2 separate regions of the Homo sapiens genome follow, and region 1 is linked to region 2. The links come from fine-mapping of genetic effects on plasma protein levels. Region 2 holds a variant in brackets. A gene starts in the other region. All regions are shown on their forward strands.

Region 1 (5,362 bases), not on the chromosome of region 2:
TCCCAGCTACTTGGGAGGCTGAGACGGGAGAATCACTTGAACATGGGAGGTGGAGGTTGCAGTGAGCCGAGATTGCGCCACTGCACTCCAGCCTGGGTGACAGAGTGAGACTTTGTCTCAAAAAAAAAAAAAAAAAAAAAAATGCCAGACGCAGTGGCTCACGCCTGTAATCCCAGCACTTTAGGAGGCAGAGGCGGGTGGATCACCTGAGGTCGGGAGCTCAGGACCAGCCGGATCAACATGGCGAGACTCCGTCACTACTAAAAATACAAAAATTAGCTGGGCATGGTGGCACACACCTGTAACCCCAGCTACTCAGGAGGCTGAGGCAGGAGAACTGCTTGAACCCAGGAGGTGGAGGTTGCAGTGAGCCAAGAACCCCCCACTGCATTCCAGCCTGGGTGACAGAGTGAGACTCCATCATAAAATAAAATAAATAAAATAAAATTAAATTAAAATAAAATAAAATAAAATAAAATAGCCTGGGAGGCAGGGGGAAGAGCAGGATGGGCTTGTGCCATGTTGGGGAAATGTCAGTGGCTGAACTGCAAACCTAGAAATGCTAAGTTAGGCTCAGAGCTGGTTCAGAGATGGGTTATCAAATAATAGCTAACTTTCAGTAAACATTTACTATGTGCTAGCTACTAGTCTAGGTGACTTATATATTAATAATTTAACGCAGTTAGTCTTCACAACTCTTGTGAGGTAGGTCCTTTTAGCCCCTGTCTTAGTACATTGGTGCTGCTATAACAGATCTCTGAGGTTGGGTAATTTATGAAAAACAGAAATTTGGCCAGGTGTGCTGGCACATGCCTGTAATCCCAGCACTTTGGGAGGCCGAGGCAGGCGGATCACTTGAGGTCAGGAGTTTGAGACCAGCCTGGCCAACATGGTGAAACCCCGTTTCTACTAAAAATACAAAAGTTAGCCGGGTGCGGTGGCGGGCACCTGTAATCCCAGCTACTTGGGGGGCTGAGGCAGGAGGATCTGTTGAACCCGGGAGGTGGAGGTTGCAGTGAGCTGAGATCATGCTGCTGCACTCCAGCCTGGGCGACAGAGTCAGACTCTGTCTAAAAAACAAAAAAAAAGAACAGACATTTATTTCTCATAGTTCTAGAGGCTGGGAAGTCCAAGATCAAAGCACTGGCATTTGGGACTTCCTAGCCTGCAGAACTGCAAGAAAGTAAATTTCTCTTCTTTACAAATTTACTCAGTTTCAGGTACCCTGGCCTATATAGAAGCACAAAGGGACTAAGATGGTGTCCCTTTACAGATGAGGCATCTGAAGCACAGAGAGGTTAAGTTACCTGCCTAAGGTCACACAGGAAGGAAGTGGCAGAGGCAGGATTTGCCTTTGTTTTTTTTTTTTTTTTTTGAGACGGAGTCTTGCTCTATCATCCAGGCTGGAGTGCAGTAGTGCTCAGCTCACTGCAACCTCCTGAGTTCAAGCAATTTTCTGGCCTCAGCCTCCTGGGTAGCTGGGATTACAGGTGCCTGCCACCACGCCTGGCTAATTTTTGGTATTTTTAGTAGAGATGGGGTTTCACCATGTTGGCCAGGCTGGTCTCGATCTCCTGATCTCAAGTGATCTGCCCGCCTTGATCTCCCAAAGTGCTGGGATTACAGGCCTGGCCAGTAGTAGAATTTGAATCCAGGAAGTCTTACTCGACACACTCTCCTGGTCTAGAATCTAGGTTCTTCTCCAGTCCACCACCTAACCTGTGTAGCTTTGCTCTTCTCTGCAAAAAATGCCCTTTCTGGCTTCTCCCCCAAATCATTTCTCTTTCTTCCTAGCCTAGCTCTTATGTCTCCTCCTCCAAGAAGCCTTCCCTACTTTTGCTCTCCAGGCCCCAGATTCCTTCCCTTATCCTTGCCTTGACTCTGTGGAGCTGGGAATATCTATGTCCCCATGCTGGAGCTTCTTTGAGAGCTTGAGTCTCCAGCCTCACTCCATGCAGGGCAAGACATAGATGGGACAGCAGTACGCCTTCTGCAGAGCCAAGAGGTTTGGTCCCAGGACTCTGCCCCCTGACTCACCTGTCCCTGGGTCTGACCACAGTAGCAATCCGAGTAGGATCCAGAGGACACCCTGGGCCATTGTTGCAGGATTCCAGCTTCCAAGGGGTATTTCTGGTTGGCCTCGGCAGAGAACCTCGGCAGTGCTGGAGGGAGACAGGCACAGAGAACTGAGCAGAGCCTTTGACCACTGTCAAAGTCCAGCGGCGAATGACAGACCTGCCTCTCGTAGAGCTGTGGGCGGGAGGCAGCAGGGACATGGGGCAGCGTACCCTGGGTCAAGGTCATCTGGGCATCCTGGTCTCCCCCAGTCTCTTCTGTCCCTCCTAGGCTGAGGTCAGTGGTCAGTAAGCCAGGCCCATCCCCAGAGGGGCCTGGAGACCAGGTGGTTCAGACTCCATAAACTCTGCCCATTCTCCAGTGAGGTGGACCGAGGCAACCCCTCAAGTCCTGTCCCTCCCCATAGTGACGGCTCTGTAGCCGCTGCTGGCCACCAGAGGGGACTCTCAGCTGCCGCCTGCTGTACTGGTAAGACCGGCTGTGTTGAGGGAGAGGAGAGAAGCAGAGGCCTGAAGTTGGCACTGCCTTCTGCTTTTTTTTGCAACCAACACTTCAGGCTCAGGCACAGCATCGGTGCGGGGGCTGAGGACAGTGTTTGCTGAGGCCTGAAGTTGGCACTGCCTCCTGCTTTTTTTTGCAACCAACACTTCAGGCTCAGGCAGAGCATGGGTGCAGGGGCCGAGGACAGTGTTTGCTGAGGCCTGCTCTGAGCCCATGGGGACCAGGGGCTGTCACCTCTCATCCAGTTCCAGCCCTTGATTTCAAGCCACCAGCAGTAGCTGAGAGCAGGGGTTGAGCTTGAGTGTTCAGGACCCTGGCATTGTTCCAGGAGCTGGCTTCTGGACTCACCTGGGCTGACAGTGAAATGTCCTTCCTCTTCTCCGGGTGCCCATGACTGAGACCTGCAGAATGGACCCATCTCCCCTTTATTCTGGCATCAGATGGGGCAGGTTGACATGACTGGGCTGTTGTGTATGTAAATTGCTTCCCTGTGGGGCTCCCACCTCAAAACCAGCCCGGGGAGTTTCCAGGAGACCCACCAGCTGGAGACTCAGCCAGGGCAGGCCTGGGAATGTCCAGCCTGAGCCAGGCCTGGGATTCCCCTGGGGGCCACCCCTGGGGCCTCCTCAGGTGTCCTCTTTCTGGGGACCTCCCAGAAAAAAGCTGGGCACATAGTGGAAGCTCAGGATGTAGGGTGCTAAGTGATAGAGTGAATGGGGGACACTTCCCATGGGAGTAAGAGACAATGTCCTCCTCCAAGCTCGTTTCCCAGGATTTGGGGATAGGAGCTTTGCCTGGTAGAACCATATGAAGGTTGTGGGCTGAGGCAGGGACTAGGTTGAGGCATCCTCTTTGCCGCAAAATTTAAGGCAGTGTTGAAAATCTAAGTCATCAATAACTTTTTTTTTTTTTGAGACGGAGTCTCGCTCTGTCACCCAGGCTGGAGTGCAATGGCACGATCTCAGCTCACTACAACCTCCACCTCCCAGATTCAAGCAATTCTCCTGCCTCCCTGCCTCAGCCTACCAAGTAGCTCAGGTTACAGGCATGCGCCACCATGCCTGGCTAATTTTTGTATTTTTAGTAGAGACGGGGTTTTGCCACGTAGGCCAGGCTGGTCTTGAACCCCTGACTCAGGTGATCCACCCAACTTGGCCTACCAAATTGCTGGGATTACAAGCGTGAGCCACCATGCCCGGCCGATAAATAATTTTAAGACTTTTTTAGAACAGTTTTATTATTATTATTATTTTTAAAGATGGAGTCTTGATATGCTGGCCAGGTTGGTCTTAAACTCTTGGCCTCAAGCAATCCTCCTGCCTCGGCCTCCCGAAATGCTAGGATTACAGGCGTGAGCCACTGCACCCAGCTTTATTTTTTATTTTATTATTATTATTTTTTGAGGCAGGGTCTCCCTCTGTCACCCAGGCTGGAGTGTAGTGGTGCAATCTTGGCTTACTGCAGCCCTGCTTCCCAGGTTCAAGTGATTCTCCTGCCTCAGCCTCCCAAGGAGCTGAGATTACAGGTGCCCGTCCACCACTTCCAGTTAATTTTTGTATTTTTAGTAGAGACGGGATTTCAGCATGTTGGCCAGGCTGGTCTCAAACTCCCAACCTCGGGTGATCCACCTGTCTTGGCCTCTCAAAGTGCTGGGATTACAGGCTTTTTTTTTTTTTTTTTTTTTTTTTGAGACAGAGTCTCGCTCTGTTGCCTAGGCTGCAGTGTAGTGGCACAATCTTGGCTCACTGCAGCCTCTGCCTCCCAGGTTCAAGCTATTCTCCTGCCTCAGCCTCCCGAGTAGCTGGGATTACAGGTCCCCGTCACCACTCCCGGCTGATTTTTGTACTTTTAGTACAGATGTAGTTTCACCATGTTGGCCAGGCTGGTCTTGAACTCCTGACCTCAGGTGATCCACCCGCATCGGCCTCTATTTTTAATTTTTTATAGAGATGAGGGTCTCGCTATGTTGGCCAGGCTGGTCTCATCTCCTGGACTCAAGGGATCCTCCTGCCTTAGCTTCCCAAAGTGCTGGGATTACAGGCGTGAGCCACCATGCCTGGCCTAGAGCAGTTTTAGGTTCGTGACAAAATTGAGCAGAAGTTACAGAGAGTTCTACTCCCTGCCTTGACACATGCACAGACTCTCGTATTATCACTATCCAGCACCAGAATGGTATATCTGTTACAATCGATGAACCTTCACTGACACATCATTATCACCCAAAGTTCATCATTTCCATTAGGGTTTGCTCTTGGTGGTGTACATTCTATGGGTTTGGACAAATGTATAATGACATATGTCCACCACTAGAGTGTCATACGGAGTACAGTTGACCCTTGAACAACATGGGTTTGACCTGTGAGGGTCAACTTATATCTGGATTTGTTTCAATAAAAATTACATGGACTGTGCCTGCCTCTCCTCTCCCCTTCCTCCTCTTCCACCTCTGCCACCCCTGAGACAGCAAGACCCCTCCTCTTCCTCCTCCTCAGCCTACTCAACATGAAGACGGTGAGGATGAAGACCTTTATGATGATTCTCTACTTAATGAATAGTAAATATACTTCCTCTTCCATATTTTCTTCCTTCTCTTCCTTCTCCTTTCTTCCCTTCTCCTTCCTTCCTTCCTTCCCTCCCTCCCCCCTTCCTCCCTCCCTCCTTTCTTTCTTTTTTCTTTCTTTCTTTCTTCCTTTCTTTCTTTCTTTCTTTCTTTCTTCCTTCCTTCCTTCCTTCCTTCCTTCCTTCCTTCCTTCCTTCCTTCCTTCTTTCTTTCTTTCTTTCTTTC
Region 2 (5,347 bases):
CCGGGCAGGGGTCCTGGCTGGAGGGGAGCAGAAGAGGAGCTCTGGGATTAACCCCGGTGGGTGCCACTTAGGGCCAGAGCCTCTCCCAGGTGGGACCTGCGTCTCATGGTGGCTGCGCGGCCATCGCTGGGGCCAAGGCGCCGCCTGGTGGTGAGGCCGGGCCCTGCAGCCACACAGGCGTGCCCCAGGCAGGGGACAGGTGGGCAGGGTCTGTGGGGTGCGGTGCCAGCCGCCCTGCTCACATGGGTCCTGGGACACATGGGAGGGGTCTGCTGCCTGACAGTGTGGGTGTCAGGCTTCCAGGAAGCCACGTGCACAGCTGGGCCAGTGGCCCAGGTGTTGAGTGGGGGACGCTGGGAGGAAGGGGAGGTCTGTGCCCCTCCCAGGGACCTTGCACCCCGAGGGGCGTAGAGAGGGCCCCTTTGCTCTCAGAGCCCCTCACTGGGGCCTGATGGACGCCTTAGCAAGCAGAGAATGTCACAGAGGGACCCTGAGCCTCCCAGTCCGCCCCTCACACCCCCTCCCGCATGTCCCCAGCTGCCCTGGATCCCTGTGCCTCCGGCCCCTGCCTCAATGGAGGCTCCTGCTCCAATACCCAGGACCCCCAGTCCTATCACTGCAGCTGCCCCCGGGCCTTCACCGGCAAGGACTGCGGCACAGGTGAGCTGGGCCTCGGAGGTCCGCAGGGGTCCAGGGGCCGGAGCAAGTCCCCGGAGGATGGGAGAACAGGTGGCTCCCGAGTGCAGGGCAGGGGCCCTGCACGGGGACAGCAGGTGGCAGGGTGTGAGGGCTTACTGTGCACCCCTCAGAGAAATGCTTTGATGAGACCCGCTACGAGTACCTGGAGGGGGGCGACCGCTGGGCCCGCGTGCGCCAGGGCCACGTGGAACAGTGCGAGTGCTTCGGGGGCCGGACCTGGTGCGAAGGCACCCGACATACAGGTGCGCCACGGGGTGTGAGCCGTGCCACTGACCCCTGACGGGTGTCCCTGTCCACACCCGAGTGGGAGGAATGGCCTGAGGTCACCCAGAAACAAGGGACAAGGGGTGGACCCCGGCCCCGACTCCGCTGTCGTGGGGCACTGCGCGGCCCCTGGCCCAGCTCCTCGGCCCTGCCCCCAGCTTGTCTGAGCAGCCCTTGCCTGAACGGGGGCACCTGCCACCTGATCGTGGCCACCGGGACCACCGTGTGTGCCTGCCCACCAGGCTTCGCTGGACGGCTCTGCAACATCGGTGAGTGGGTCAGCCCCCCGGGGTGCCCTGGGGCAGTGCCGGGTGGACCCACCGTGGGCCGGCCTCACTGCCCCTCTGCCCGCAGAGCCTGATGAGCGCTGCTTCTTGGGGAACGGCACTGGGTACCGTGGCGTGGCCAGCACCTCAGCCTCGGGCCTCAGCTGCCTGGCCTGGAACTCCGATCTGCTCTACCAGGAGCTGCACGTGGACTCCGTGGGCGCCGCGGCCCTGCTGGGCCTGGGCCCCCATGCCTACTGCCGGTCAGCACCACGCCGCTCCAGGCCGCCGCATGCGGGGCAGGCAGGATTTGTCCTGGGGAGAGGCCCCCCGGCTCCCTAGGACCCAGGCGGGGCCAGCTCCGTCCAGACAGGCCCCGGAACCTCTGCCTGGGAGGCTGCCCGAGGGAGGGCCACTCTCTTCCCACTGCTCCAGGTGCGGGGAACCGCCCTGCTGGGGGTTCCGATGCCCCCTCCCCATGCCCTCTTCGAGGGGCAGTGTGACTCCCTGCCAGCCCCCACTTATGCACCGCAGGAATCCGGACAATGACGAGAGGCCCTGGTGCTACGTGGTGAAGGACAGCGCGCTCTCCTGGGAGTACTGCCGCCTGGAGGCCTGCGGTGCGCGGCTGGCGGGGGGTGCTGCCTTGGGCCCCACCGAGGTCACAGCAGTTTTCCCCGTGATCCTCCTAGCCCCTC[C/T]GCACACCTGGCTACTGCATCTCTGACAAATGGGGAAACTGGAGCTCACGGGATCAGGCTGGTCCAAGGTCACGCAGTGGGTCGGTACTGGGGTCACAGTGGGGAAGCAGCCCGCTGCAGGGGGCTGGTCACCAGGCGACGGCCTCGGGGTGGCACCTGCCCAGCCTGGACCATGCCCAGGATGGCCGCAGAAGCCTTTCAGGGAGGTGCAGGGAGGGCAGCGTGCAGGCCCCCCAGAGGCCACCTGCTTCCTGCCCTGGGGAGAGGCCCCCCGGCTCCCTAGGACCCCGGCGGGGCCAGCCCGGGGCTCTCATGTGGGGGTCTCTGACTGTGCTGGGGCTGGCTGTGGGGTTCCGGGCTGCTGAGGGGGCCACAAAGGCCTCCGTGTGTCCAGCCCCTCTGGCCCTCACAGAGCCTCGGGATCGGGCATCAAACCCCATTCTACAGATTTGGAAACTGAGGGCAGAGGTGAGTGGGCGCCAGGGCCTGAGCAGCGTGGACAGGGGGTCCGGCCATGGCCCTCTGCAGCGCCTCCTGCCGGGTAGGGCCTGTGTGTGGAAGGGGGCTGGCCCTGTGAACCCCAGGGGTGTGACCCGGTGACCTTTGCTCCCAGAATCCCTCACCAGAGTCCAACTGTCACCGGATCTCCTGGCGACCCTGCCTGAGCCAGCCTCCCCGGGGCGCCAGGCCTGCGGCAGGAGGCACAAGAAGAGGACGTTCCTGCGGCCACGTATCATCGGCGGCTCCTCCTCGCTGCCCGGCTCGCACCCCTGGCTGGCCGCCATCTACATCGGGGACAGCTTCTGCGCCGGGAGCCTGGTCCACACCTGCTGGGTGGTGTCGGCCGCCCACTGCTTCTCCCACAGGTGCACCTCCTCTGGGCCCCAGTCACCTGCCCTGAGGCCCCACACACCATCCAGCGTCACTATGCGCCTGTCCCCACCCGCTTGCGGACCCCATCCCGGTGCCTCTGCTGACCCCTTCCCGGGGTCCCCGGTAACCCTCTCTGACCCCTCTGGGTCTTGGGGCTCAGTCCTGAGCTGGGCATGCATGGACACTCCAGAAACCCTGTCCCTATTGAGGGAGGCCAGGGGTCAGTGGCATTTCCACAGAGGACCCAGCGCCTGCGGAGAGTGCAGTGGGCCAGGTCCTGTCCTCCCCGCAGGCCCCGCCCCTCCCAGAGTCCTGGCTCTCAGTAGGGAGCCAGGGAGCGCAGTGACAATGCGTCAGAGCCCTAGGAGCCCAAGCACAGCCAGGGAAACTGAGGCCCAGCCCACTCAGCCGGCTCCCCTCAGTGGGGGCGCACAGCCACCCAGGCCCACACTCTGGGAGGCGGGCCTCGAGTGGGGAGACCCTGAGACGGAGCAGCCTGGGCCAGACGCCCTTCCACCTTCGATGGGCACCCCAGTGATTAGGGGCAGGGGTCCGGCCAGCCGAGGGTCTGGCGGCCTTTCGAGGACCACAGCTCCCAGGGTGGGGTCCTGCGTGGCCCTGCAGAACCTGCAGCCGGCGGCTCCTGGGCCTGCAAATGGGGCCAGAGCCTTCCTCAGTGTGGAGAAATGGGGTTCCCCACATGGAGCCCAGGGCAGGAGGCCGAGGCAGGGTGGAGCGACCTCCACACAGCAGATGGGAGCCAGGCTCAGGGGCCCAGGCTCTGTGCCCAGCAGGAGTGAGGGCTGCATCTGGGGACCCCACAATGTGGATGGAAGCTGGGGCAGGGCCTGAGCAGGCCAGGTCTCCACCCACTCGGGTCGGCCTTGCAGCCGATCCTGCCTGGGCTTGGCCTGAGACTCCCCCCAGGGCTTGTGACCAGTGTTGTCAGGAGGGATGGCACCGCACTTCAGCTCCCATGCCTGGATCTGGGGGTGACTGGCAATAGCCCCTGCTTGGTGGTCCCTGTCTCCCCAGTATCAACAGCCCACACCCAGGCACCTGCTCAGACCCCTCCCCGGGACCAGGGTCCCACACCATTGGCCTCCGTGGGCCTGACAGGGGGTGGGGAGAGGTGAGCCCGGTGGCTGGGGGAGGGCTGGTCCATGCAGCCTCCAGCCCCCCTTGCACAGCCCCCCCAGGGACAGCGTCTCCGTGGTGCTGGGCCAGCACTTCTTCAACCGCACGACGGACGTGACGCAGACCTTCGGCATCGAGAAGTACATCCCGTACACCCTGTACTCGGTGTTCAACCCCAGCGACCACGACCTCGGTGAGCTCCGGCGTGTCGTGGCTGCACTCTGGGCAGGTGGGCCCTGTGCTCCCCAGGCCAGGCCCAGACAGGGGCAGGAGCTGGGCAGACATGTGGTGCGGGGGAAGCTGGGGGCAGGGCAGGGAGGACAGGGCACCGCTCCCTTCTGGATCTCCCAGGCTGCCCTGTGGACCCCACTGGCTACCCTCCCTCCACCACGGGCCCCGACAGCCTCCCGTTCAGCCCGCACACCACAGGCTGACCCTGGCCACTCTTCTGATCAGTCCTGATCCGGCTGAAGAAGAAAGGGGACCGCTGTGCCACACGCTCGCAGTTCGTGCAGCCCATCTGCCTGCCCGAGCCCGGCAGCACCTTCCCCGCAGGACACAAGTGCCAGATTGCGGGCTGGGGCCACTTGGATGAGAGTGAGTTGGGAGGGGGGCGCCCAGCGCCCCGCCAGGGTGGACAGTGGCCAGCCACAGTGTGGGTGTCACGCTGAGGGCATTGTGTCCCACAGACGTGAGCGGCTACTCCAGCTCCCTGCGGGAGGCCCTGGTCCCCCTGGTCGCCGACCACAAGTGCAGCAGCCCTGAGGTCTACGGCGCCGACATCAGCCCCAACATGCTCTGTGCCGGCTACTTCGACTGCAAGTCCGACGCCTGCCAGGTGAGCTGGTGCCCGCCCCACCAGGACCCGACTGGTGGGGGCTCAGCTGGTCCTGAGTCTCCGAGATGCTTGCCCCTGGGGAGCCCAGAGCCTGGCGGCACCCCAACCTGGCAGGGCCAGCCAGGGACCCCTGGGCAGGGAGCACACTTACTGTCGGTGGCCAGCACCCCAGGGCCACCCAGAGCCCTGCCGGAAGGGCATCCTCCTCACACAGAAGGGGAGACCCAGGCTCTGAGAGGGGCCTGGGGTCCCACAGAGCCCGGACAGTTCCTGGCTGTCCAGCCCAAGGCAGTGCTTTCCGTGTGACACTAGGCACCAAAGGCCCCTTTGCCCCGAGTTCTCTCAAGCCAGCTCTTCAACCTTCAATAAGTTCTTCAACCTTCAATAAGCCCAACAGCCCAACCACGTCCTGGGCTCTGCAGGCCTGTGTGCTCAGGCGGCACGGCAACCCTGGCATGCGACGGCTCTCTTATGCCCCATTTTATAGCTGGGGAGACTGAGCCCCAGGCAGTCAATTCACTCTTCCAAGGCCACAAAGCCCAGGAGTGGTAGAGTGGGTAGGGCTTGTCACT

Which allele goes with the higher level. Alleles are on the strand shown, and positions count from the first base shown. The strength of an association depends on the size of the effect and on how common the allele is.
As copies of C replace T in region 2, the plasma level of the protein whose gene starts at base 2,228 in region 1 goes up (weak association).

Evidence for each region. PIP is the chance, under the fine-mapping model, that this variant and not a neighbour inherited with it causes the effect. Protein levels are from antibody-based Olink assays in UK Biobank. Linkage for the fine-mapping came from a reference panel and not from the study's own genotypes, which makes the PIPs less certain.
Region 1: PGLYRP2 starts here. The variant in region 2 is fine-mapped to the plasma level of the PGLYRP2 protein (UK Biobank, PIP 0.94).

What each region holds. Positions count from the first base shown.
Region 1 is chr19:15,477,274-15,482,635 of GRCh38, forward strand. PGLYRP2 (peptidoglycan recognition protein 2) reads right to left here and starts at 2,228. Exons shown (of 5, transcript NM_052890.4): 1 at 2,038-2,228. The coding sequence starts at 2,098.
Region 2 is chr4:3,443,502-3,448,848 of GRCh38, forward strand. HGFAC (HGF activator) reads left to right here. Exons shown (of 14, transcript NM_001528.4): 5 at 538-660; 6 at 810-941; 7 at 1,122-1,232; 8 at 1,318-1,492; 9 at 1,764-1,849; 10 at 2,541-2,793; 11 at 3,991-4,130; 12 at 4,394-4,534; 13 at 4,627-4,775. Among named protein-coding and RNA genes, the nearest start is that of HGFAC, 4.2 kb to the left of the region's middle. RefSeq lists a silencer at 1-46. The variant C/T (reference allele first, on the strand shown) is at 1,928.